Regions from separate parts of the Homo sapiens genome. Here all the other regions are linked to region 3. The links come from fine-mapping of genetic effects on gene expression. A gene starts in region 3. Each other region holds a variant in brackets. All regions are shown on one strand. Distances are between the middles of the regions.

Region 1 (8,180 bases), 91 kb after region 3:
GTAGAGACGGAGTTTCACCATGTTGGCCAGGCTGGTCTCAAATGATCCACCCGCCTCGGCCTTCCAAAGTGTTGGGATTACAGGCGTGAGCCACCGCACCCGGCCCTAGCCTTTTCTTAAGTACAGCAGCCAGACTGAACTCTGGCTTTGCAGTTTTTAAAAGCATAAGTCAGATCCTGTTGCTCCCCTTTTCAGAACCTTCCTGAGGTTTCCCATCTCATCCAGAGTTGTCAATGTGCGCGTCAGCATTGTGTTTGGTGATTGGGAATTCAAAGAGGTCCGAGTCTGCCATGTGGCATGACTTTCCGTAGTTGTGCTCTGACAGAGAAGGTGAGGAGCAGGGTTGGCCGAAGACTGGGATTTTGCCAGAAAGAGGAAGACTGATTGATTGAAAGGCAGGTGCTCCATGGATTAAAGTCTCAAGGAGGTTTAAGAATGGTCAAGGTGGCCAGGCGTGGTGGCTCACGCCTGTATCCCAGCACGTTGGGAGGCTGAGGAGGGTGGATCACCTGAGGTCAGAAGTTTGAGACCAGCCTGGCCAATACGGTGAAACCCCAGCTCTACAGAAAATACAAAAATTAGCCAGGCATGGTGGTGGGTACCTGTAATCCCAGCTACTCAGAAGACAGGCAGGAGAATTGCTTGAACCCATAAGGCAGACGTTGCAGTCAGCTAAGATTGCACCACTGCACTCCTGCCTGGGCGACAGCGAGACTCCATTTAAAAAAAAAAAAAAGAATGGTTAAGGTAAGAGTAGCTGAACAAGAAAGCTGGAAGGGAGAACAGATTGCAACAATTAGTGATTCATGCATTGGCCGGGCACCATGGCTCACTTCTGTAATCCCAGTGCTTTAGGAGGCCAGGGTGGGAAGATCGCTTGAGGCCAGGAGTTCGAAGCCAGCCTGAGCAGCATAGCAAGACCTCATCTCTACTAAGAATTTAAAAAGTGGCCGGGTGTGGTGGCTCATGCCTGTAATCCCAGCACTTTGGGAGGCCAAGACGGACAGATCACCTGAGGTTGGGAGTTCGAGACTAGCCTAAGTAACATGGCGAAACACTGTCTCTACTAAAAAAAATACAAAATTAGCCAGGCATGGTGGCACATGCCTGTAATCCCAGCTACTTGGGAGGCAGAGGCAGGAGAATTGCTTGAACCTGGGAGGCAGAGGTTGCAGTGAGCTGAGGTCATGCAATGCACTCCAGCCTGAGCAATAAGAGCGAAACTCCATCTCAAAAAAAAAAAAACAAAAAAAAAACAAACAGTTAGGCATGGTGGTGTGCACCTATAATCTCAGCTACTAGGGAAGCTGAAGTGGGGCTATTGCTTAAGCCTGGGAGTTCGAGGTTGCAGAGCTTTGATTGCGCCACTGCACACCAGTTTGGACAACAGAACAAAACACTGTCTAAAAAGAAAAAAAAAAGAATTCATGCCTTAGTGCTCATGAATTATTTTCTGACTATTCTATATTTACTTGTGCTATGCAATAGAATTCAACTCTAGGTATTTTACAGAAAAGAATTCTACATTTAGAGGACACTCCATTAGCACAAGCCCGCCTGTGTAGCATCTTATAGATGTTTGTGTCAAAATTTGTTCTTTTCTTTAGGATGTACATTATGAGTTTGTACTCAGTGTTATAAAGTTTGTTTCATATTATGGTAATATATTTTTCCCTATCCTCAAGGTATTTTCTATAAACATATGAGACAGCTGTAAATGTAAAGGAAAGTACCCTTTCTCCTTAATTCTATTTCATTGTAAATACAAGTTTCTAAAGATAGGCACATTCCTATCTTAAGGAATATCTAATCTTGTCTTCTTTCCAAATAGAGTTTCATGTTAACTTTTTTTTTTTTTTGAGACAGAGTCTTGCTTTGTCGCCCAGGCTGGAGTGCGATGCACTGCAACCTCTGTCTGCCGGGTTCAAGCGATTCTCCCGCCTCAGCCTCCCAAGTAGCTGGGATTACAGGTGCCTGCCACAACGCCTGGCTAATTTTCATATTTTTAATAGAAACAGTGTTTCTATTAAGACCAAGACCATGTTGGCCAGGCTGGTCTTAAACTCCTGACCTCATGATCTGCCCACCTAGGCCTCCGAAAGTGCTGGGATTACAGGCGTGAGCCACCGTGCCTGGCTTATATTAACTTTCATGTTAACAGGGTTTGATTATCACCTAACCAGATACGGTATGTAAAAATCTAGTAACATTTCTAAAAGAGTATTTAGTAGGGTGGGTGCGGTGGCTCACACCTGTAATCCCAGTACTTTGGGAGGCCAAGGCAGGCAGATCATGAGATCAGGGGATCGAGACCATCCTGGCCACCATGGTGAAACCTCATCTCTACTAAAGTACAAAAAGTTAGCTGGGCTTGGTGGTACGTGCCTGTAGTCTCAGCTACTCAGGAGGCTGAGACGGGAATCGCTTGATCGTGGGAGGCAGAGGTTGCAGTGAGCCGAGATCACGCCACTGCACTCCTCCAGCCTGGCGACAGAACAAGACTCCATCCCAAAAAAAAAAAAAAAAAAAAAGAATATAACAATATTTAGTGAACATAGAATGACAAGAAAAGCATATCAGTTCTCATGTTTACTTTGTTTGCCTGGAGTTTACCTAAATATTTCATTCACATTTCCAGTTATTCAGCTTCTAAATTGTAGTTTGCTTTTTGGCAAAGTGTATTTTCTCACTCATGCTCAAGTCAGTGCTAAAATGAAGCAAAGAGGTGGTGTGTAATAGACATTGTCTCTGAAATTGTATTTATATTAAAGATTAAATAATTCTGGTCTGAGAAGAGAAAAAACATTTGGCCCAGAAAACCTTCAAATCATGGTTATATATAGACTATTGGCAACAATGTAGAATAAAAAAAAATTAGTTCAGATTTTTTTTTCTTTACAGGAGACTTAATGGAGCATTTAGTTCCCCATCCTGAATTCAAGATGCTGAGTGTTCGTAACATTCCTCACATGTCTGAGAATTCATTGGCATACACCACATTTACTTGGGCTGGCCTCCTCAAGCATTTGAGACAGATGCTCATTTCTAATGCAAAGATGGAAGAAGGTAAAGAGTAGTCCAAAAATATGCAGCCCACAAGCTGGAAAAAATGTCTGTCCTGGAGTCTCAATATAAACTGGCTTGGACCAGTTTAAATAATGGTCCCTTTTTCTGGCTAGAGAGACTCCGGCAGAAACTCACCAGGACATCTTAGGAGGGTTTCTTAATCACTTCACAGTTTCATTACCAAAAGACATTTCAAATGAGTGCCAGATTTTTTTTAAATTTTTATTTTAATCAAATAAGTGAACATAGTTTTAAAAATCAAGTAGCCAAAACTCATTTAAATATATACTTAAATCCATACATTGCACTGTATTTAAATTATATCTCAATTTTTTTTTTTTTTTTTTTTTGAGACTGAGTCTTGCTCTGTCGCCCAGGCTGGAGTGCAGTGGCGTGATCTCAGCTCACTGCAACCTCCGCCTCCCGGGTTCACACCATTCTCCTGCCTCAGCCTGCCGAGTAGCTGGGACTACAGGCGCCTGCCACCACGCCCGGCTAATTTTTTGTATTTTTAGTAGAGACGGGGTTTCACCGTGTTAGCCAGGATGGTCTCAATCTCCTGACCTCGTGATCCACCCGTCTTGGCCTCCCAAAGTGCTGGGATTACAAGAGTGAGCCACCGTGCCCGGCCAATTATATCTCAGTATTTTATTTTTTATTTATTTTATTTTTTTGAGATGGAATCTCGCTCTGTCACCCAGGCTGGAGTGCAGTGGCGCGATCTCGGCTCACTGCAACCTCTGCCTCCCGGATTCAAGCAGTTCTTCTGCCTCAGCCTCCCAAGGAGCTGGGATTACAGGCGTGTGCTACCATGCCTGGCTAATTTTTTTGTATTTTTAGTAGAGATGAGGTTTCACCATATTGGCCAGGCTGGTCTCGAACTCCTGACCTTGTGATCCACCCACCTCGACCTCCCAAAGTGCTGGGATTACAGGTATGAGCCACTGCGCCCGGCCTATATCTCAGTTTTTTAAAAGGTCAAGTAATGGGCCAGGTATGGTGGCTCATACCTATAATCCTAGCACTTTGGGAGGCCAAGGCAGGAGAAGCGCTTGAGCCCAGGAGTTCGAGACCAGTCTGGGCAACATGGCAAAACCCCATCTCTACAAGAAATATAAAAAATTATCTGGACATGGTGACATGGGCCTGTATTCCCAGCAACTTAGGAGGCTGAGGTGGGAGGATCACCTGAGCCCAGGAGGTCAAGGCTGCAGTGAGCTGTGATCACACAACTGCACTTCAGCCTGGGTGACAGAGTGAGACCCTTTCTCAAAAAAA[A/C]AACAACAACAAAAAACAACTTAAGTAATGTCTGGTATGAATTTATGACAAGGAAAAACAGCAATCCTACACCTCCCCATTACACAGATGAAACTACTTTCAACGTCTAGCTATTTCATCTACAATTTGCCTCCATAGTTATAAATGTCTTACTTATATTGTTATCTCTTGCATTCCTAGTGTGAAAATTGAGAATTGGCCTGGGCGCAGTAGCTCACGCCTGTAATCCCAGCACTTTGGGAGGTTGAGGTGGGTGGATCACCTGAGGTCAGGAGTTCGAGACCAGCCTGGGCAACATGGCGAAACCCCTTCTTTACTAAAAAATACAAAAAAATTAGCCGGGCGTGGTGGCAGTCGCCTGTAATTCCTGGGAAGCTGAGGCAGGAGAATTGCTTGAACCCGGGAGGCAGAGGTTACAGTGAGCTATGATAGTGCCATTGCATTCCAGCCTGGGTGATAACAGTGAAACTCCATCTCAAAAAAAAAAAAAATTGAGAATTGAATCATCTTACACCCCCTCTACACACACAGACACACACACACACACACACACACACACACACACATTCCCATTTTCATATATATACTGACACATGTGCACACTCACACACATACTCACACATACAAACACAATTACCTTCATTCTTCTAACATACTTGGGAGTTAGATCAGTTTTCAATGTTTGTACTACTTTTGCTATCTAAATATTATTCAGAGTAGAGCCTTGTGTACATAGATTATATTTTTTTGTGTGTACAGTTTATTTTTCCCTCCTGGAGTTGTTAATCATTATATTTATTCAGTTGATATTTTCTGTACCTATTACCAACTTATCCTGAAACTTTTCTGTAAAAAAATGAATCCCTTCTCAGATGTGATGGCTCACACCTGTAATCTCAGCACTTTGGGAGGCTAAGGCAGGAGGATCGCTTGAGGCCAGAAGTTCAAAACTAGCTTGAGCAACAAAGCAAGACCCCATCTCTAAAAAAATAATTTAAAAAAATTAGCTGGCCCGGCAGGGTGGCTCACGCCTGTGAGCCAGCACTTTGGGAGGCCGAGGCGGACAAGTTCAGAAGATCGAGACCATCCTGGCTAACACGGATGTAGTAGAAACCCCATCTCTACTAAAAATACAAAAAATTAGCGAGGCGTGATGGCACACACTTGTAATCCCAGCTACCCAAGAGGCTGAGGCAGGAGAGTGGCTTGAACTCAGGAGGCAGAGGTTGCAGCGAGCTGAGATCACACCCCTGCTCTCCAGCCTGGGCAACAGAGCGAGACTCTGTCTCAAAAAAAAAAATGCTGGGCATAGTGGTATGCACCTGTAGTCCTAGCTACTTGGGAGGGTGAGGCAGGAGAATCCCTTGAACCAAGGGATTTGAGTTTAAAATGAGCTGTGATCATGCCACTGCACTCCAGCCTGGGCAACAGAGCAAAACCCTGTCTCAAAAATAAAAAAAAAGAATTCTTTCTTAATATGTTTAAACCCATCAGGTAAGTGATTACTTCCATTATCTGCCTAGAGACATCTTCTGGAAGGCATTTATCTTCCCATTCCATTCTGGACTGACTGCTCTCTAGGCTTGATAAGCAGCCAGCCCTGGCATCTCTGCTTGCCTCATCCTGATTTATATCTGTACCTCCTAGATTTCAAATCTGCTTTCTTGATTTATTCCCTCATATTGATGGACCATACCTTTCAGGAGCTCCCTAAGAGAGTACAAGGAAATTAAAATGTTTGAGGCTACAAATATCTTCATTCTGGCCGGGTGCAGTGGCTCACACCTGTAATCCCAGCACTTTGGGAGGCCAAGGCAGGTGAAACATGAGGTCAGAGATCGAGACCATCCTTGCTAACATGGTGAAACCCCGTCTCTACTAAAAATACAAAAAATTAGCCAGGCATGGTGGCGGGCGCCTGTAGTCCCAGCTACTCAGGAGGCTAAGGCAGGAGAATTGCTTGAACTTGGGAGGCAGAGGGAAGTTGCAGTGAGCTGAGATCGTGTCACTGCACTCCAGCCTCGGCGACAGAGCGAGACCCTGTCTCAAAAATAAATAAATATCATAATTCTGTTCTGCCATTGCATTTGAATGATAGTTTGGCCAGGGATAGGATTCTAGGTTGGGAATCATTTTCTTTTTACTGAGTATTTCGAAGCCATTGCTCTATCATCTTCTCACTTGCAGCGTTGCTGTTGAGAAGTCTCAGGTTGTTCTGATTCCCAATCCTATTTTGTTATCTCTTGAAGCTTTTAGGATTTTCTCTTTGTCCCCAGCATTCTGAAAGTACTTGACATGGGTCTTTGGTTTATCTCAGTAGAAGGTAAGCTTTATTTAATCTATTTGGTTTACTGTTGCATCTTTGGAGCCTGGAACGGTAAACGCTCAGTGATTATTTGCTGAGTTAGTTGCTCCGGGCACTGAATGGACCCTTACGGACATTGCAGACTTGTGTGGGTTTCACAGTAAGGTGATCTGCCTGGCCATTTTATTGCTGGACTTCCAAATATCATACTCAGCGTATCTTATCTCTTGATCAGTTGCTTCCTCCTCCATCTCTTTCCTGAAGGCATGATAAGCCTGGCTGCCAGCCTTTTCAGAGCTGGACGGGGAAGACATGGACTGTTACACTTTCCTGCGAAAGCTGCTACTTCGTGACCTGGTTTTCCAAAGGTTCTCTACAGGGCTGTGCCAGGTGTCACTGAGGCCAGAGCCTCCCAGGTTTAGCCTTTTCACAGCAGAAACCTTCTAGGGTGGAAGAGCGCACTCCTCCTACTGCAGGGAGTGGGGAAGGGGCTCTCACTGCTTCTCAAATAGATTTTTAGTTAATCCTCCTGTATTTTTACACTTTGATTTTTTTTTTTTTTTTTTTTTTTTTTTTTTTTTTTGTGAGATGGAGTCACACTCTGTCGCCTAAGATGATGCAGTGGCATCATCTTGGCTCACTGCAACCTCCACCTCCCAGGTTCAGGTGATCCTCCCACCTTAGTCGGAATTCCAAGTAGCTGGGATTACCAATGTATGAATGTGTACTACCACACCTAGCTAATTTTTGTATTTTTAGTAGAGATGGGGTTGTATCATGTTGGCCAGGCTGGTCTTGAACTCCTGACCTCAAGTGATCCACATGCCTCAAATTCCCAAAGTGCTGGGATTACAGATATAAGCCACCGTGCCCAGCCTTTTTTTCACTTTGAAAAGTGTCTGGTCTACTTCCAGGACCTCAATTGTGGGCAAAATTTTTAGCTTTTTCTTGTTGTGCAGTCAGTAACCATTTGCTCTCCAGCTCCAAAATTTTGTTGCTGTTATATTCTCTCCTGTTCCTTTTTTTCTTGTTTGTGCTTATCCTTTTAGTGATTAAGCAGGATCTGGAGAGAGAGTGGCAGGAAACTGATATGCTCAGTCTGTCATGTGTAACTAGAAATCACTACTAGGTATTAATAGCATATATTATACCACAAATTAAGTTAGGCTTTTATACTATGAGAGTAGATTTTCTCAACATTTATTTGTAATATCTTACGGATTTTAGATTATAGTGCCAGAGGTTTGGAGATAAGTAGAAAGTTTACATGTAAAAATAGTGCTTCCTGAATTTTTTGGCCATAGTACCTGTTTTTCGAGCAATACCTGTTAATACCACAAGGAACACAATGTTCCTTAGAGTCATGTGAGACATGCTGCTCTGAGCTCTCTTAGGTCAATAAACCACAGTTTGCTGAGTTCCCATGTGGAACTTTTAGGGTGTCAACATTTTTTCTTTTTTCTTTTTTTTTTTTGGCGGGGGGGACAGAATCTTGCTCTGTCACCCAGGCTGGAGTGCAGTGGCGCGATCT
Region 2 (8,180 bases), 78 kb after region 3:
TGGCTCAGCATGTCAATTGTAACAGTGCAACTTGGTCAGTGTGGCAATCAGATTGGTTTTGAAGTTTTTGATGCTTTGCTTAGTGACTCACACAGTTCCCAGGGACTCTGCTCTATGAGAGAGAATGAGGCATATCAAGCATCTTGCAAAGAAAGATTCTTCAGTGAGGAGGAGAATGGAGGTAGGTGTGGCCCACAGTCCTCTCCTTTACTCTGATCTAACCAACCCCTTCAAAGCCAGGCCTTCCACATGGTTTTTAAACCCCATTCCTTCCCATCTCACTAGGGAATTACTTTGTTTTTGCTTTTCATTTCTATGTTAATAATCTTTGCTTTTCCAGTGGCATTTTCCCTTCTGCATGCTCAGATCTCACCAATTTAAAACCAACCAAACAAAACTCATCTATTGACTGGCTTTCTTCTTCTTATCTCTTTGCCTTTCATCTAAGATTCTCAAAAGAGGACCCTGCTGGCTGGGCGTGGTGGCTCACGCCTGTAATCCCAGCACTTTGAGAGGCCGAGGCGAGTGGATCACAAGGTCAGGAGTTCAAGACCAGCCTGACCAACATGGTGAAACCCCATCTCTACTAAAAATACAAAAATTAGCTGGGCGTGGTGGCATGTGCCTGTAATCCCAGCTACTCGGGAGGCTGAGGCAGGAGAATCACTTGAACCCAGGAGGCAGAGGTTGCAGTGAGCCGAGACCGCACCACTGCCCTCCAGCCTGGTGACAGAGCGAGACTCCATCTCCAAAAAAAATAAAAGGACCCTGCTTAACCACCTATGATCCTGCTTCTGCCCCACATAGCATCATTGAAGCTGCTCTAAGAAAAGTTTCCAGTGACCTCCGAATCACCAGATCCAACTACTGTTTTTCTTTTCTTTTTTTCTTTTTCTTGTAGAGACAGGTTCTTACTACACTATGTTGCCCAAGCTGGAGTGCGGTGGCTATTCACAGGTCTCCTGAGTAGCTGGGACTGCAGGTGCATGCCACCATGCCTGGCTCTTTCTTTTCTCTGTCTCTCTTTTTTTTTTTTTTTTTTTTGAGAGAGTCTCGCTCTGTCACCCGGGCTGAAGTGCAGTGATGTGATCTTGGCTCACTGTAACCTCCACCTCCCGTGTTCAAGCAATTCTCCTGCCTCAGCCTCCCAAGTAGCTGGAATTACAGGTGCCCACGACCATGTCTGGCTAATTTTTGTATTTTTAGTAGAGACAGGGTTTTGCCATGTTGGCCAGGCTGGTCTCGAATGCCTGATCTCAAGTGATCCGCCTGCCTTGGCCTCCCAAAGTGATGGGATTACAGGCTCTCTTTCTTTTTCTTTTTCTTTTTTTTTTTTTTTTTTTGAGACAGAGTCTAGCTCTGTCACCCAGACTGGAGTGCAGTGGTGCGATCTTGGCTCACTGCAACCTCCGACTACCAGGTTGAAGCAATTCTCCTGCCTCAGCCTCATGAGTAGCTGGGACTACAGGCATGCGCCACCACGCCCAACTAATTTTTTTGTATTTTTAGTAGAGATGGGGTTTTACCATGTTGGTCAGGCTGGTCTCGAACTCCTGACCTCAAATGATCTGCCCACCTCAGCTTCCCAAAGTGCTGGGATTACAGGCGTGAGCCACTGTGCCCAGCCTCTCTTTCTTTTCTTAATTCACTTTACTCCTCTACTGCGTTTGATAACAGTAACGTATAAAAACTCTTTCCAGCAGGGCGCAGTGGCTCACGCCTATAATCCCAGCACTTTGGGAGGCCAAGGCAGGCAGATCACTTGAGGTCAGGAGTTAGAGACCAGCCTGGCCAACAGGGTAAAACCCCGTCTCGACTAAAAATACAAAAATTAGCCGGACATGGTGGCACATACCTGTAATCCCAGTTATTCGGGAGGGTGAGGCAGGAGAATCACTTGAACCCGGGAGGGGGGTTGCAGTGAGCCGAGATCTCGCCACTGCACTCCAGCCTGGGAAATAGAGCGAGATGCCGTCTCAAAAAAAAAAAAAAAAAAAAAAAGCCAGGCATGGTGGCTCATCCCTGTAATCCCAACACTTTGGGAGGCCGAGGTGGGTGAATCACCTGAGGTCAGGAGTTCGAGACCAGCCTGGCCAACGTGGTGAAACCCCATCTGTACTAAAAATACAAAAATTAGCCGAGCGTAGTGGTGCGTGCCTGTAATCCCAGCTACTTGGGAGGCTGAGGCAGGAGAATCGCTTGAACCCGGGAGTCGGAGAGTGTGCCATTGTACTCCAGCCTAGGTGACAAGAGCGAAACTCCGTCTCAAAAAAGAAAAAAAAAAGACAAAAAACAACTCTCTCCTTGAACCTCCTTCTCCTAGTCACCCCACTTTTCTTCTCCAGTTGTTGCATCTCCCCTGTCCTCACTTGCATAGTTCTCTCTGGGCAACTTCACTGTCATAGTTTGCTACATTTATTACACCTGTGACTTTCAGACCTCTAGCCCAGCCTCTCTTAAAAGCTCTAGACAGATTAGTGGATATCTCCACCCACATCTCTCATATGAACCTGAAACTCAACATCTCTATTCCCAAGGCATTCATTATTGTTCCTTGTGCTCTTGCTGCATACATACCATCAAACAAGATCTGCTTATTTGACCTCCTATATACTCCTTGAAACTGTTCTTCCCTTTCCACCTTCACTGACTTGCTTTAGTCTGGCTTTTGTTCTTTCTTACCTGGACTGTCTCAAGACACTCCTTTTAGGATTCCTTGCCTGGAGTCTACTGTCTATCACATCCATCCTCCGTACTGCTGTGTTTAAAAAGACATCGGCCGGGTGCAGTGGCTCATGCCTATAATCCCAGCACTTTGGGAGGTCGAGGCGGGCGAATCATGAGGTCAGGAGATCGAGACCATCCTGGCTAACACAGTAAAATCCCGTCTCTACTAAAAATACAAAAAAATTAGCCAGGCGTGGTGGCGGGTGCCTGTAGTCCCAGCTACTTGGGATGCTGAGGCAGGAGAATGGCGTGAACCCAGGAGGCGGAGCTTGCAGTGAGCTGAGATCGCACCACTGCACTCCAGCCTGCGGGACAGAGCGAGACTCCATCTCAAAAAAAAAAAAA[AG/G]ACATCTAACAGCTGGGCACAGTGTCTCACTGTAATTCCAGTGTTTTGGGAGACCAAGGTGGGAGGATTGCTTGAGGCCAGGAATTCAAGACCAGCCTGGGCAATAGAGCAAGATTCTGTCTCTAGAAAAAAAAACAATAAAAATTAGTTAGGTGTAATGGCACACACCTGAAGTCCCAGCTACTTAGAAGGCCAAAGTGGGAGGATTGCTTGAGCTCAAGAGTTTGAGGCTGCAGTGAATTATGATTGACAGACATTTAACTATTCCTCGCCTGCTTGAAAATTTTTGGTGGTTAATCATGGCCTAAAAGATAAAGTTCAGGCTTTTCTAGCATTGCCTATAAAGATTTCCAAGATTGAGCCCTACCTGCTTTTCATCCCCATCCATCACTTCTACCCTCTCCTTCTCCATCCTCTGCTCCAACAATTCTGAGCTGGATGTTGTACCCATGGTACTTTGTACCTCTAAATATGATGTTCCTTTGGTGTGGATTTATTTGGTCATATCACGTTGCAGTGTGATTAAGTATTGATGTATTTATCTTTCCCACAAGTCTTTTTTTTTTTTTGAGACAGAGTCTCACTCTTGCCCAAGCTGGAGCACAGTGGTGTGATTGCAGCTCATTGCAACCTCTGCCTCCTGGGTTCAAGCAATTCTCGTGCCTCAGCCTCCTGAGTAGCTGAGATTACAGGCACACGCCACCAAGTCTTGCTAATTTTGTATTTTTGTTTTTTGTTTGTTTGTTTGTTTTGAGACAGTGTTTTGCTTTTATTGCTCAGGCTGGAGTGCAATGGCTCAATCTTGGCTCACTGCAACCTCCACCTCCCGGGATCAAGCAATTCTCCTGCCTCAGCCTCCGGAGTAGCTGGGATTACAGGAGCCTGCCACCACGCCCAGCTAATTTTTTGTATTTTTAGTAGAGATGGGTTTTCACCATGTTGGCCAGTTTGGTCTTGAACTCCTGACCTCAGATGATCCGCCCGCCTCGGCCTCCCAAAGTGCTGGGATTACAGGTGTGAGCCACCGCACCTGGCCAATTTTGTATTTTTAGTAGGATCGGGATTTCACCATGTTGGCCAGGCTGGTCTCCAACTCCTGGCCTCAAGTGATCCACCTGCCTCAGCCTCCCAAAATGCTGGGATTACAGGCATGAGCCACCACGCCCAGCCTCCCACCTGCCCTTTCTAAGGCTAGTTTGATGTCTTCATCTCCAAATTCCCAGCACAGTCCATGGCACATCATAAGCATTCAGCATATGTTTGTAGACCTGACCCAGGTACTCTTTTTTTTTTTTTTTTTTTTTTTTTTGAGACAGAATCTCACTCTGTCTCCCAGGCTGGAGTGCAGTGGTGCAACCTTGGCTCAGTGCAACCTCCGCCTTCCAGGTTCAAGCAGTTCTCCTGCCTCAGCCTCCCGAGTAGCTGGAATTACAGGCACATGCCACCACGCCGGCTAATCTGACCCAGGTACTCTTTTAGGCCCACACTGATTCAGCCTGCTTAGCAAATGCTGGGCTTGGTGAACATCTGCATATGCCTGCTGCTGCCCACTGAGATTTCTAAGCAGTACGACAGATCTTTCTAACCACAACCCCTGGAATTTTTTTTTTTTTTTTGGATTTGGACACTTAGATGCTCTGAGTTACCCAAATAAGACATAATAAATCTTTTTTTCTTTCGATGTTTTTGGGTTTTTTTCCCCCTCTAGTTCCAATTGCCCGGGCTGTTCTTGTTGACATGGAACCCAAAGTTATCAATCAAATGCTGTCAAAGGCTGCCCAGTCTGGCCAATGGAAATATGGTCAACATGCATGCTTCTGTCAAAAACAAGGTTCTGGAAACAACTGGGCATATGGGTAAGAATAATTTCTTGTGATTTTCAGTTTAGTGACAGCTACACAGTCAATTAATAGATAGCAAAGTTAGAACTGTATAGTTGATATACCAAGCACATAATCTTGAAATTGCTGTTTTAGATTTAGAATTTTATTTTACCCAGAAGAAACTTTCATTCCATGCCTATGTCTGTACTTAAGGTACAGGTAATGTTGAAATGAAGGATATCTTTCAGCAGGGTTTTCCATCTTCTCACTGTCATGCTGCAAACTAACTTACCAATGTAATGTCCATATCTGGCAGATATCTCAATGATAGAGAATACTACAAGACAGTAGTTCCCAAACTTTGCTGCACATTAGAATTTCCTGAGGTTCTTTGGAAAAGTCCTGATGCCTAGGGCTCACTTTGAGAGATTCTGATTTTTGTTTTGTTTTGTTTTGTTTTTTTAACCACAGCACTGAGTTTTATTAGGGATTTCATTAAGGTTAAATTTCTAGGAATGAGGGAATCCTAGTTAGAGGGCACAAAAGCCCACGAAGCCTCCTCAGATCTAGTAGTGAACCACCGACTCAGGTTCTTTGGAGGGATCACCGCCTCGTTCCAGGTACAGATTATTGTAAGGATACTGCTTTGGTCCCACGGGCTGGTAGACAGGGTACATATCCCCCACCCAGAACATGAATATCATGAGAGCCATGAAGCCGAACAGCTGCATACACATGACATTCCAAGAAACAGGTGTGGGGGACATATTCCTGGTATACATGTCTAGCTGCCAGTGCATCGGTTCACCCCAGTTCAATCTCAGGTCCAGCTGGTCCCAGCTATACCATGGATCCCTCTCATGCAGGGAGCTTTGGGTAGTCGCCATACCCCATGTCATCATCCGGGTAAGGCTCGTAGTCTCCCACACACATGTTATACTTCTTGAGGGCAGTGGCCTGTCCTTTTGGCGTCCTAGGATAGGACCCTGAGAGCATGTCATTGGTTATGCGGGAGGCTGTCCTTGCGCCCAGCGGCACCACTTTCTGGGATGCCCTTTGCATCCACTGGACTCCCAGGACCCTGGCCCTGGCCACTGCCATCTTCACCTTCACATTTCCCTTCTGCTGAGATTCTGATTTAAGTGGTTTGGGGTAAAGCCCTGATGTTGGGTTTTTGGTGTTTTTTTTTTTAAGAGACAGAGTCTCGTTCTGTCACCCAGGCTGGAGTGCAGTGGCATGATCTCGACTCAGTGCAACCTCCATCTCCTGGGTTCAAGCAATTATCCTGCCTCAGCCTTCTGAGTAACTGAGACTACAGGTGTGCACCACTATGCCCAGCTAATTTTTGTATTTTTTTAGTAGAGACAAGGATTCAGCATGTTACCCAGACTGGTCTGGAACTCCTGGCCTCCAGTGATCCACCTGCCTCGGCCTCCCAAAGTGCTGAGATTACAGGTATGAGCCACTGCACCCAGCCTGATGTTGGGATTTTTTATTTTTTTGAGACGGAGTCTCGCTCTGTCGCCCAGGCTGGAGTGCAGTGGCGCAATCTCAGCTCACTGCAACCTCTGCCTCCCAGGTTCAAGTGATTCTCCTGCCTCAGCTTCCCGAGTAGCTGGAATTACAGGTACCTGCCACCATGCCCAGCTAATTTTTGTATTTTTTAGTAGAGACGGGGTTTCACCAGTTTGGCCAGGCTGGTCTGGAACTCTTGACCTCAGGTGATCCACCCGCCTTGGCCTCCCAAAATGCTGGGATTACAGGCGTGAGTCACTGCGCCTGGCCTGATGTTGGGATTTTTTAAAGGTCCCTAGGTGACTTTAATGTGCAGCAAAATTTTTTTTTTTTTTTTTTAAGACAAGAGTCTTGCTCTGTTGCCCAGGTTGGAGTGCAGTGGTGCAATTTCGGCTCACTGCAACCTCTGCCTCCCGGGTTCAAGTGATTCTCCTGCCTCAGTCTCCCGAGTAGGTAGGACTACAGGCACATGCCACCACGCCCGGCTAATTTTTGTATTTTTAGTAGATACTGGATTTCCCTATGTTGGCCAGGCTGCTCTCAAACTCCTAACTTCAAATGATCCACCCACCTCCGCCTCCCAAAGTGCTAGGATTACAGGCATGAGCCACTGTGCCCAGCCATGTGCAGCACAGTTTGAGAACCACTGTTTCAGGACTGTTAGGAATATTAAATGTTATACTGTATCATAAACTTGTAGAACTACCTGGTATCAAAACTTGTAGAACTACCTGGTACCTACCAGGTAAAGGAATGGCCACTACTCATGCCTGTAATCCCAGCAATTTGGGAGGCCAAGGCAGGAGGATCGCTTGAGCCCAGGAGTTCAAGTCCACCCTAGGCAACAAAGGGAGGCCCTATCGCTACGAAAAAATTTTAAAAAGAAATTAGCCAGGTGAGGCCAGGCACAGTGGCTCACGCCTGTAATCCCAACACTTTGGGAGGCCAAGGTGGATCACTTGAGGTCAGGAGTTTGAGACCAGCCTGGCCAACATGATGAAACCCCATCTCTACTAAAAATACAAAAATTAGGCCTGTTGCAGTGGCTCACGCCTGTCATCCCAGCACTTTGCGAGAGGCCGAGGTGGGCAGATCATCTGAGGAAAGGAGTTTGAGACCAGCCTGGCCAACATGGTAAAACCCTGTTTCTACTAAAAAATAGAAAAAATTAGCTGGGCGTGGTGATGGCTGCCATCCCAGCTACTCGGGAGGCTGAGGCAGGAGAATCGCTTGAACCCAGGAGGCAGAGGTTGCAGTGAGCCAAGGTCACACCATTGCACTCCAGCCTGGGCAACAAGAACAAAACTCCATCTCAAAAAATATTAAAAAAAAAAAAAATTAGATGGGTGTGGTGGCCTGTGCCTGTGGCCTTAGCTCCTTGGGAGGCTGAGGCAGAAGAATCACTTGAACCTGGGAGGCAGAGGTTGCAGTGAGCCGAGATTGTGCCACGGCACTCCAGCTTGGGCAACAGAGTGAGACTCTGCCTCAAAAAAAAGAAAAAAGAAATTAGCCGGGCGGCTGGGTATGGTGGCTCTCGCTTGTGATCCCAGCAGTTTGGGAGGCCAAGGAGGGCGGATTACTTGAGGTCAGGACTTTGAGACCAGCCTGGCCAACATGGTGAAACCCTGTCTCTACTAAAAATACAAAAATTAGCTGGGCGTGGCGGCCTGTGCCTGTGGTCCCAGCTACTCGGGAAGCTAAGGCAGGAGAATCACTTGAACCCAAGTGGCAGAGGTTGCAGTGAGTAGAGATCATGCCACAGCACTCCA
Region 3 (8,180 bases):
AATCACTTAAATCAGTCTGCGAGGAGACTACCCAAGCATATGGACATTGGTAGGTGTGAAAAATTTGTGTGGGTAGTAGAGGGGGTGACGAGCTTAACTGCAACAATCTAGGACACTTAACCCTACTGATTCTATTTCATAACCTCTCCAATCTCATTCTTCTTCTTGAATCCCACTTCACTGACAAGTTCAAGACCTCATCTTGTTCCTGAACTACTTATAATAGTCTCCTAATGGAGCTTGCACTGCTACTATCAGCATATGAATTTTCTGAAAAACACAAATCCAGTCACACAATTCTGTTGCTTAAAACTCAATAGCTTCCTTTTGGCCATTAGAATAAACTAAGTGAGGCCCACAAACTCATTTTCTAGCTCATACTTACCTGACTTATCTCTTACTACTCTATCCACTCTACTCTTCCAAATACGAAAAACACTCTTTAAAAGACCATGGTATTTCAATACCACCATTTTCCATATAATGTTTCTATCTGCATTGCCCTGTTACTGCTTCTGTCCTGGTAAATATCAACTTATTCTTAAGATTTCATCCAGGAGGCTGAGGCACTAGAATCACTTGAACCCAGGAGGCAGAGGTTGCAGTGAGCCAAGATTGCGCCACTGTACTCCACCCTGGGCAACAGAGCAAAACTCTATCAAAAGAAGAAAGAAAAAAAAAGATTTCATCTTAAATATCACAAATTTAATAAAAGATTTCTTCCCTGACAAAGTTAAATGCTTCTACCTTTTGCTTCCATTGCATCTCACAGAACCTTCAATTATAGTGTTTTCTCCAAAATACTGTAATTATTTGTTTGCAGGTCTAAACATTTCCATCACCATGAGATGGCAACTTTTCTTTTTCTTTTTTTTCTGAGATGGAGTCTTGCTCTGTTGCCCAGGATGGAGTGCAGTGGCATGATATTGGCTCACTGCAACCTCTGCCTCAGGTTGAAGCAATTCTCCTGCCTCAGCCTCCTGAGTAACTGCATTACAGGCGCGTGCCACCATACCTCGATAATTTTTGTATTTTTAGTAGAGACGGGGTTCCACCATGTTGGCCAGCCTGGTCTTGAACTCCTGACCTCAGGTGATCCGCCTGCCTCACCCTCCCAAAGTGCTGGGATTACAGGCGTGAGCCATTGTGCTTGGCCCTAATTTTTATGTTTTTAGCAGAAATGGAGTTTCACCATGTTGGCCAGGTTGGTCTTGAACTGCTGACCTCAAGTGATCTACCTGCTGTGGCCTCCCAAAGTGCTGAGATTACAGGTGTGAGCCATCATGCCTGGCCCGAGACTCTTTATTATGTCTCTCTCTCCAACATCTAGTATTATTCTTAACACTCAGTAAGTACTTGGAAAATGCTTTTTGAATTAACCAATTAAAATTAAAATGTCTATTTCCAACAGTCCAGATGCCAGTGGAAAGAAAATTTATCAGATAATAGCCTGTCACCAAGTCAAATCTTCTCATCAATTCAGTCCTTTCTTTCTTCAAATATGTCACTTTTCAGTCAAGTTACTTGGGTGAAATGCAGCTCCAAGTGCACTAATAAACTTTAAATATGGACTAATATACCTGCAGTGTTATGAGTATGTCAAAAGGAGAATTTTTTTTTTTTTTTTTTTGAGACAGGGTCTCACTCTGTTCCCAGACTGGAGCAATAACGGCTCATTGCAGCCTTAATCTCCCTGGCTCAAGGGATTCTCCCACCTCAGCCTCCTGAGTAGCTGGGACTACAGGCCCTTGCCACAGTGCCCAGCTAATTTTAACATTTTTTTCTAGAGACAGGGTCTCTCTATGTTGTCCAGTCTGCTCTCGATCTCTTGGGCTCAAGCGACCTTTTCACCTCAGCCTCCCAAAGTGCTAGGATTATAGGAATGAACCGTAGTATCTGGCCAAGATGAGAATTTAAACACTACATTTGGTATTCTAAATTTACAAATGTACCAAATGTACTAAAATTATCAGTGTACTAATACATATTGGTGCTGCATTGTGGCTGTGGCTGAATTATGTTATATTCTGTTTTTTTTCCTGTTTCCTAAATGTTCACACATTTTGAAGTTTAAAAATATCCACGACATAGTTGAAATGTTAGAATACTTACACATATCTCCTCGGAAAATTCACTATAGTCTGGAGCCTGGCTCTCACCCTTACTGAACCAGAAATCTGTCAGAAAGATTTAAATTAGTAAGCACAGAGAGACTTAAGTATGCCTTCTACCACCGCCGACCACCCCTACCCCCACCCCCAACAAAAAAAGAAAGCCAATGTGTTTTTTTTTGAGGTGGGGGTCTCCTTCTGCCGCCCAGGCTGGAGTGCAGTGGCACGATTTCAGCTCACTGCAACCTCCGCCACCTGGGTTCAAGGGATTCTCCTGCCTCAGCCTCCCGAGTAGCTGGGATTACAGGCGCCCGCCACCAAGCCCGGGTGATTTTTGTATTTTTAGTAGAGACAGGGTTTCGCCATGTTGGCCAGGCTGGTCTCAAACTCCTGACCTCAAGTGATCCTCCCGCCTCGGCCTTCCAAAGCGCTGGGATTACAGGGGTGAGCCACCACGCCAGGCCTAAACCTTTTTTTTTTTAGACGGAGTGTCGCTCTGTTGCCAGGCTGGAGTGCAGTGGCTAATCCCGGCTCACTGCAACCTCCGCCTCCCGGGTTCAAGCGATTCTCCTGCCTCAGCTTCCCGAGTAGCTGAGATTACAGGCACGCACCACCACACCCGGCTAATTTTTGTATTTTTAGTAGAGACGGGGTTTCACCATATTGGCCAGGATGTGGCCACGATCTCTTGACCTTGTGATCCACCCGCCTTGGCCTCCCAAAGTGCTGGGATTACAGGTGTGAGCTACCACTCCCCTCCTCAGCTTCGTTTTCTTAATGACCTTTTAATTTTAGAACAGTTTTAGATTAACAGAATTTATTTTATTTATTTATTTTTTGAGACCGAGTCTCACTCACTCTGTTGCCCAGGCTGGAGTGCAGTGGCACGATCTTGGCTCACTACAAACTCCACCTCCCGGGTTCAAGTGATTCTCGTATGCCTCAGCTTCCCGAGTATCTGTAGCGGGGATTACAAGTGTGAGCCAACGCCCCCGGCTAATTTTTGTAGTTTTAATAGAGACGGGTTTCACCATGTTGGCCAGGCTGGTCTCTACCTCCTGAGCTCAAGTGACCCGCCCGCCTCGGCCTCCCAAAATACTGGGATTACAGGTGTGAGCCACTGCGCCCGACCTAAACTTCGTTTTCTTAATAACCTTTTAATTTTAGAACAGTTTTAGATTAACATAATTATTTTGAGGGCAGTAGGGTCCTCTATACCCCACGCAAGACAGGTTTTTCAACTCTAACTTCTACTTCCACCCCACGCAGACTCTCCGCACCTCTCTCCTCTCATCTCGGGTTCTGACAAGGCCTGATCCTCACAGCCCAAATTCACGATTGTGAGGAAAGGTCAGCTCAGACCAAACGTCACCGCCCAGACAGACACAACTAGGTCAGGCGTCAAGCTCGCGGACATCCGAGCCCGGAAACCCTAACACTCCTCCAGGGGTAGGTTCTCCAAGCCTGAACATTTTTAACCTCAAAACGCCCAGGATCTCGGAGGCGTGTGGTGGATGCCACATAAATACATAACACATAACAACGACTTATTATTTAGCGCCAGGCCTGAAGGCCGTTCTCAGGCGCAGCTCGCTTGTTCTCGCTGCCAAAACACCCCGGCAGCCGTGAGCTCTCCACTCGGCGCGGTGCGGGGGCGGGGCTAGGAGGTGGAGCCGGGGCAGGGCGCGCGCGCGCGCGTGAGAACGTCCGGGGAGCGCGCGCGCCGCCGCCGTTGCCGCCGGGCTGAGAGAAGAGCTTGCGGGGTTTGCGGTTGATGGCCCCGACTGAAGGGCTGGAGGCGGTGTATGCCGCTGTTCTTGCTGTCGCTCCCGACACCTCCGTCCGCTTCTGGTCATGAGAGGTTAGGCCTGGGGGAAGCGGGCAGAGGAGGAGGCGGCGAGGGGCCGCGGCGCAGGGGGCTCTGGGGAGAATAGGCACTCGAGGCTCGGACGTGGGTGGAGAACTCTGCCCTCGGAGATTCCGGAAGAGTTGTGTTGAATTTTCTTCCCTTTTTTCTCCTCTTTCTTGTCTGTGCATGAAGGAAAGTGGGAGGGTTCTATGTTATTTATAGAAAAGACACTGAAAGCCTGCTGTCCAACGTCGCTCTTCAGTTTTGACGAAATAACACCCGTGGCGTCGGGGCCTCGGTGAAAGCCTTTAGTGAAAAGCACTGAAACCCAAACCGCCAGACACGGTGACTGCACCACTGTTCAGTCCTGGGAGTGAAATAGAATGACACAGAACATTCCCTGACGTTAACTCTAGCCTCCTCCTAGACAAACGGGAAAAGCACGGCAGTGTGGGATAGCCTCTGCGTTTTGTCAGCTGGGATTCCGACTCTGTTCTTCTGTTTCTAGGAGGTCCACACTGGATCATTTATTAGAGAGATCTTTCTCTGCTAGAGTCCTCTTTCCTCACACCCCTCCCTCCGTAATACACACACCACCGACGGTGGCATTTTATTGGGCGGACTGTGTAACTGCTTATTCAGACTAAAGAGTTACCTAGCAATTACGTGGTGACTCTCCAAAGTATCTATGCTTTAAATGTATTTAGGTAACATTCTTTTGCGCGGGGAGGTAATATTATTGGTGGCACCATTAATTATTGGAAACTTTATGAGCTTTGGGAAAGCTGCTTGAGCAGAAAATCTAATTTGTAGGTCACCTAAGTGCAGTGTTTATTATTAGTTACCTATGATGATAATAAGGCATTAAGATTTAATGTTGTTTTTTTTCCTAACATTTCCAACCATTAAAAAATACTGGCTCACTCTTCCTTATGAAACTTCTTTGATGTAGAATCTACATCAGAGATGAAACTGCACCATTTGGGAAAAGTAAATGTACCAGAGTACCCAGTGAGGACTGGTGCTCATTAACATCTGCTGGGTACCCATACTTCATGACTGTTTTGCGGATGCCTTCTGCCATTAGAGAACTGGAAGCATTTGCAGCTCAACTTTTTTTTTTTTGGTGCAAATGTTCCCTAAAAGATCATTTGTGTAGGGCAGCAGAGCCTTGGCATTAAGGGAGAAGGGAGGAGTCCAGTGATAAATAACCTGAAAATTCATCTGTTGTGATTATTTGCTACTCCTTTAGTGAATAAAGGATACCCAGTGAGGAATATACTGCTGGTATTTAACTGCCTGTTTACTTAGAATATCTTTTATTTGATTTTTTAGGAGACAGAGGCCTGAAGCAAAGACATCTGGGTCAGAGAAAAAGTATTTAAGGGCCATGCAAGCCAATCGTAGCCAACTGCACAGTCCTCCAGGAACTGGAAGCAGTGAGGATGCCTCAACCCCTCAGTGTGTCCACACAAGATTGACAGGAGAGGGTTCTTGCCCTCATTCTGGAGATGTTCATATCCAGATAAACTCCATACCTAAAGAATGTGCAGAAAATGCAAGCTCCAGAAATATAAGGTCAGGTGTCCATAGCTGTGCCCATGGATGTGTACACAGTCGCTTACGGGGTCACTCCCACAGTGAAGCAAGGCTGACTGATGATACTGCCGCAGAATCTGGAGATCATGGTAGTAGCTCCTTCTCAGAATTCCGCTATCTCTTCAAGTGGCTGCAAAAAAGTCTTCCATATATTTTGATTCTGAGCGTCAAACTTGTTATGCAGCATATAACAGGTAGGACATAATAAAACATTGACTTGTTTTCATTCCTAAATTCAGTTAATTTTCTTTCATTATTGGTAATCTACTTAATGCATCCAGTTACTTATTTTCTGTGAGCTTTTATTATTGTATATGTTTATTTTTAATTTGTGTCATTGTTAGCTTATATAATCCTCTTTGATTTTTTTTTCTTTCAATTAACTGGAACTTATTTTCTAACAGGAATTTCTCTTGGAATTGGGCTGCTAACAACTTTTATGTATGCAAACAAAAGCATTGTAAATCAGGTTTTTCTAAGAGTAAGTATAACAAGCAACTAAAAAATTATTAACTGTTTCTCTCCATAGATTTTAGAGAAATAATTTTGAGAGAAATAGGAAATAACTTGAAAGAAATAGGAAGTAATAGGATATATTGTAACATCCACGTTATGTTAAATTTGTTATCTAAATCCTGGAATAAATTATCTCTCCTAATGCTGAATTCCTTCACCTTACCTTCTTTGTAAGAAAAAAAAATTGGTTACTGTTAAAGTAGTAAAAAGGATTAAAAGAGTTAGAACACGGTATCTGATCTGATTTGGCAAGTCCCTTCATGTTGTATCAGTTACTTTGACCATAGTAAGTAAGACCATCATCATGAAAAACTTTTAGTGGCTGGGCATGGTGGCTCACACCTGTAATCCCAGCACTTTGGGAGGCCGAGGCGGGCAGATCATGAGGTCAGGAGATTGAGACCATCCTGGCTAACACGGTGAAACCCTGTCTCTACTAAAAATACAAAAAATTAGCTAGGTGTGGTGGCATGTGCCTGTATTCCCAGCTACTCGGGAGGCTGAGGCAGGAGAATCACTTGAACCTGGGAGGTGGAGGTTGCAGTGAGCTGAGATCGCACCACTGCACTCCAGCGTGGGCTACAGAACGAGACTCCATCTCAAAAAAAAAAAAAAAAAAAAAGACCTGGGCCAGGCACAGGGGCTCACGCCTGTCATCCCAACACTCTGGGAGGCCCAGGCAGGCAGATCACCTGAGGTCAGAAGTTTGAGACCAGCCTGGCCAATGTGGTGAAACCCCATGTCTACTAAAAACACAAAAATTAGCTGGGCGTGGTGGCGCTTGCCTGTAGTCCCAGCTACTTGGGAGGCTGAGGCAGGAGAATTGCTTGAACCCGGGAGGCAGAGGTTGCAGTGAGCCAAGATTGTGCCACTGCACTCCAGCCTGGCGACAGAGTGAGACTCCATCTCAAAAAAAAAAAGAGAGAAAATGAAACCCAAGGAATTTTTCCATAACATAAGTTACACGAGCCCGTCATATAAATCATTGGGAAAAAGAGGATGAGTTTCTAAAATTTCACCTTAAGGCAACTTTAAATGGCTATGTCTGTGTAAAGTATCATGCATTCTGACCTGGAAATTTATAGTTAAACCTATCAAACTAGAAAAATCTTAATGATTTAAAATTAGTAAAACTTCATTAAACTTGACTTTAAAAGTGAGATTACAGGCAAGGCACAGTGGCTCATGCCTGTAATCTCAGCACTTTGGGAGGCTGAGATGGGCAGATTGCTTGAGCCCAGGAATTGAAGACGAGCCTGGGCAACATGGCAAAACCCCATCTCTACAAAAAATACAAAAAATTAGCTGGGCGTGGTGGCACGTGCCTGTAATCTCTGCTATCTGGGAGGCTGAGGTGGGAGGATTGCCTGACCCCAGGTGGTTGGGGCTGCAGTGAGTTGTGATCATGCCACTGCACTCCAGTCTGGGTGAAAGAGTGAGACCCAGTCTCAAAAAAGTAAAAAAAAAAAAAGGGAGATTACAACTACTTGGGAGGCTGAGTTGGGAAGAATGCTTGAGCCTAGGAATTCTGAGCAATGTGTCGAGACCCCATATATTAAAAAAGTGAGATTAAAACATTAATTTATTAAATTCTTATAATCTGAGAATTTAAAAAATATAAACCTTGACAAGTGAGTCAAGGTTAAAATGCATTTTGAAATTTTCTTTTGTGGGTGGGTCCATTTTTTTTCTGAGACGGTGTTTTGCTCTGTCACCCGGGCTGGAGTGCAGTGGCGTGATCTTGGCTCACTGCAACCTCTGCCTCCTGGGTTCAAGTGATTCTCGTGCCTCAGCCTCCTGAGTAGCTGGGATTACAGGCACGTGCCACGGCGCCTGGCTAACTTTTGTACTTTTTTTAGTAGAGACAGGTTTCACCATGTTGGGCAGGCTGGTCACAAACTCCTGACCTCAAGCGATCCGCCGACCTTGGCCTCCCAAAGTGCTGGGATTACAAGTGTGAGCCACTGCCCCCGTCCTGGGTGGGTCCTTTATGTCAGCTTGTAGAAGACCTGGCTTCTTTTTTTTTTTTTTAATTTAATTTAATTTTCTTTTTTTTTTTTTTTTTTTGAGAGAAGACTTGGCTTCTTTGAAACATAGGTAATGTT

Evidence for each region.
Region 1: its variant is fine-mapped to the expression of RNFT1 in blood mononuclear cells (TOPMed, PIP above 0.99).
Region 2: its variant is fine-mapped to the expression of RNFT1 in whole blood (INTERVAL, PIP above 0.99).

The regions. Positions count from the first base shown.
Region 1 is chr17:59,869,425-59,877,604 of GRCh38, reverse strand. It overlaps TUBD1 (tubulin delta 1), which reads left to right. Exons shown (of 9, transcript NM_016261.4): 6 at 2,902-3,066. Among named protein-coding and RNA genes, the nearest start is that of TUBD1, 19 kb to the left of the region's middle. The variant A/C (reference allele first, on the strand shown) is at 4,345.
Region 2 is chr17:59,882,832-59,891,011 of GRCh38, reverse strand. It overlaps TUBD1 (tubulin delta 1), which reads left to right. Exons shown (of 9, transcript NM_016261.4): 2 at 1-181; 3 at 4,782-4,929. The coding sequence starts at 10. It also overlaps the pseudogene NDUFB8P2. Among named protein-coding and RNA genes, the nearest start is that of TUBD1, 6.0 kb to the left of the region's middle. The variant AG/G (reference allele first, on the strand shown) is at 3,073.
Region 3 is chr17:59,960,400-59,968,579 of GRCh38, reverse strand. RNFT1 (ring finger protein, transmembrane 1) reads left to right here and starts at 3,840. Exons shown (of 9, transcript NM_016125.4): 1 at 3,840-3,972; 2 at 5,296-5,753; 3 at 5,964-6,040. The coding sequence starts at 3,917. RNFT1-DT (RNFT1 divergent transcript) reads right to left here and starts at 3,484. Exons shown (of 4, transcript NR_110815.1): 1 at 3,392-3,484; 2 at 2,113-2,177. It also overlaps the pseudogene TBC1D3P1-DHX40P1. RefSeq lists an enhancer at 3,470-3,739 and a silencer at 3,770-3,899.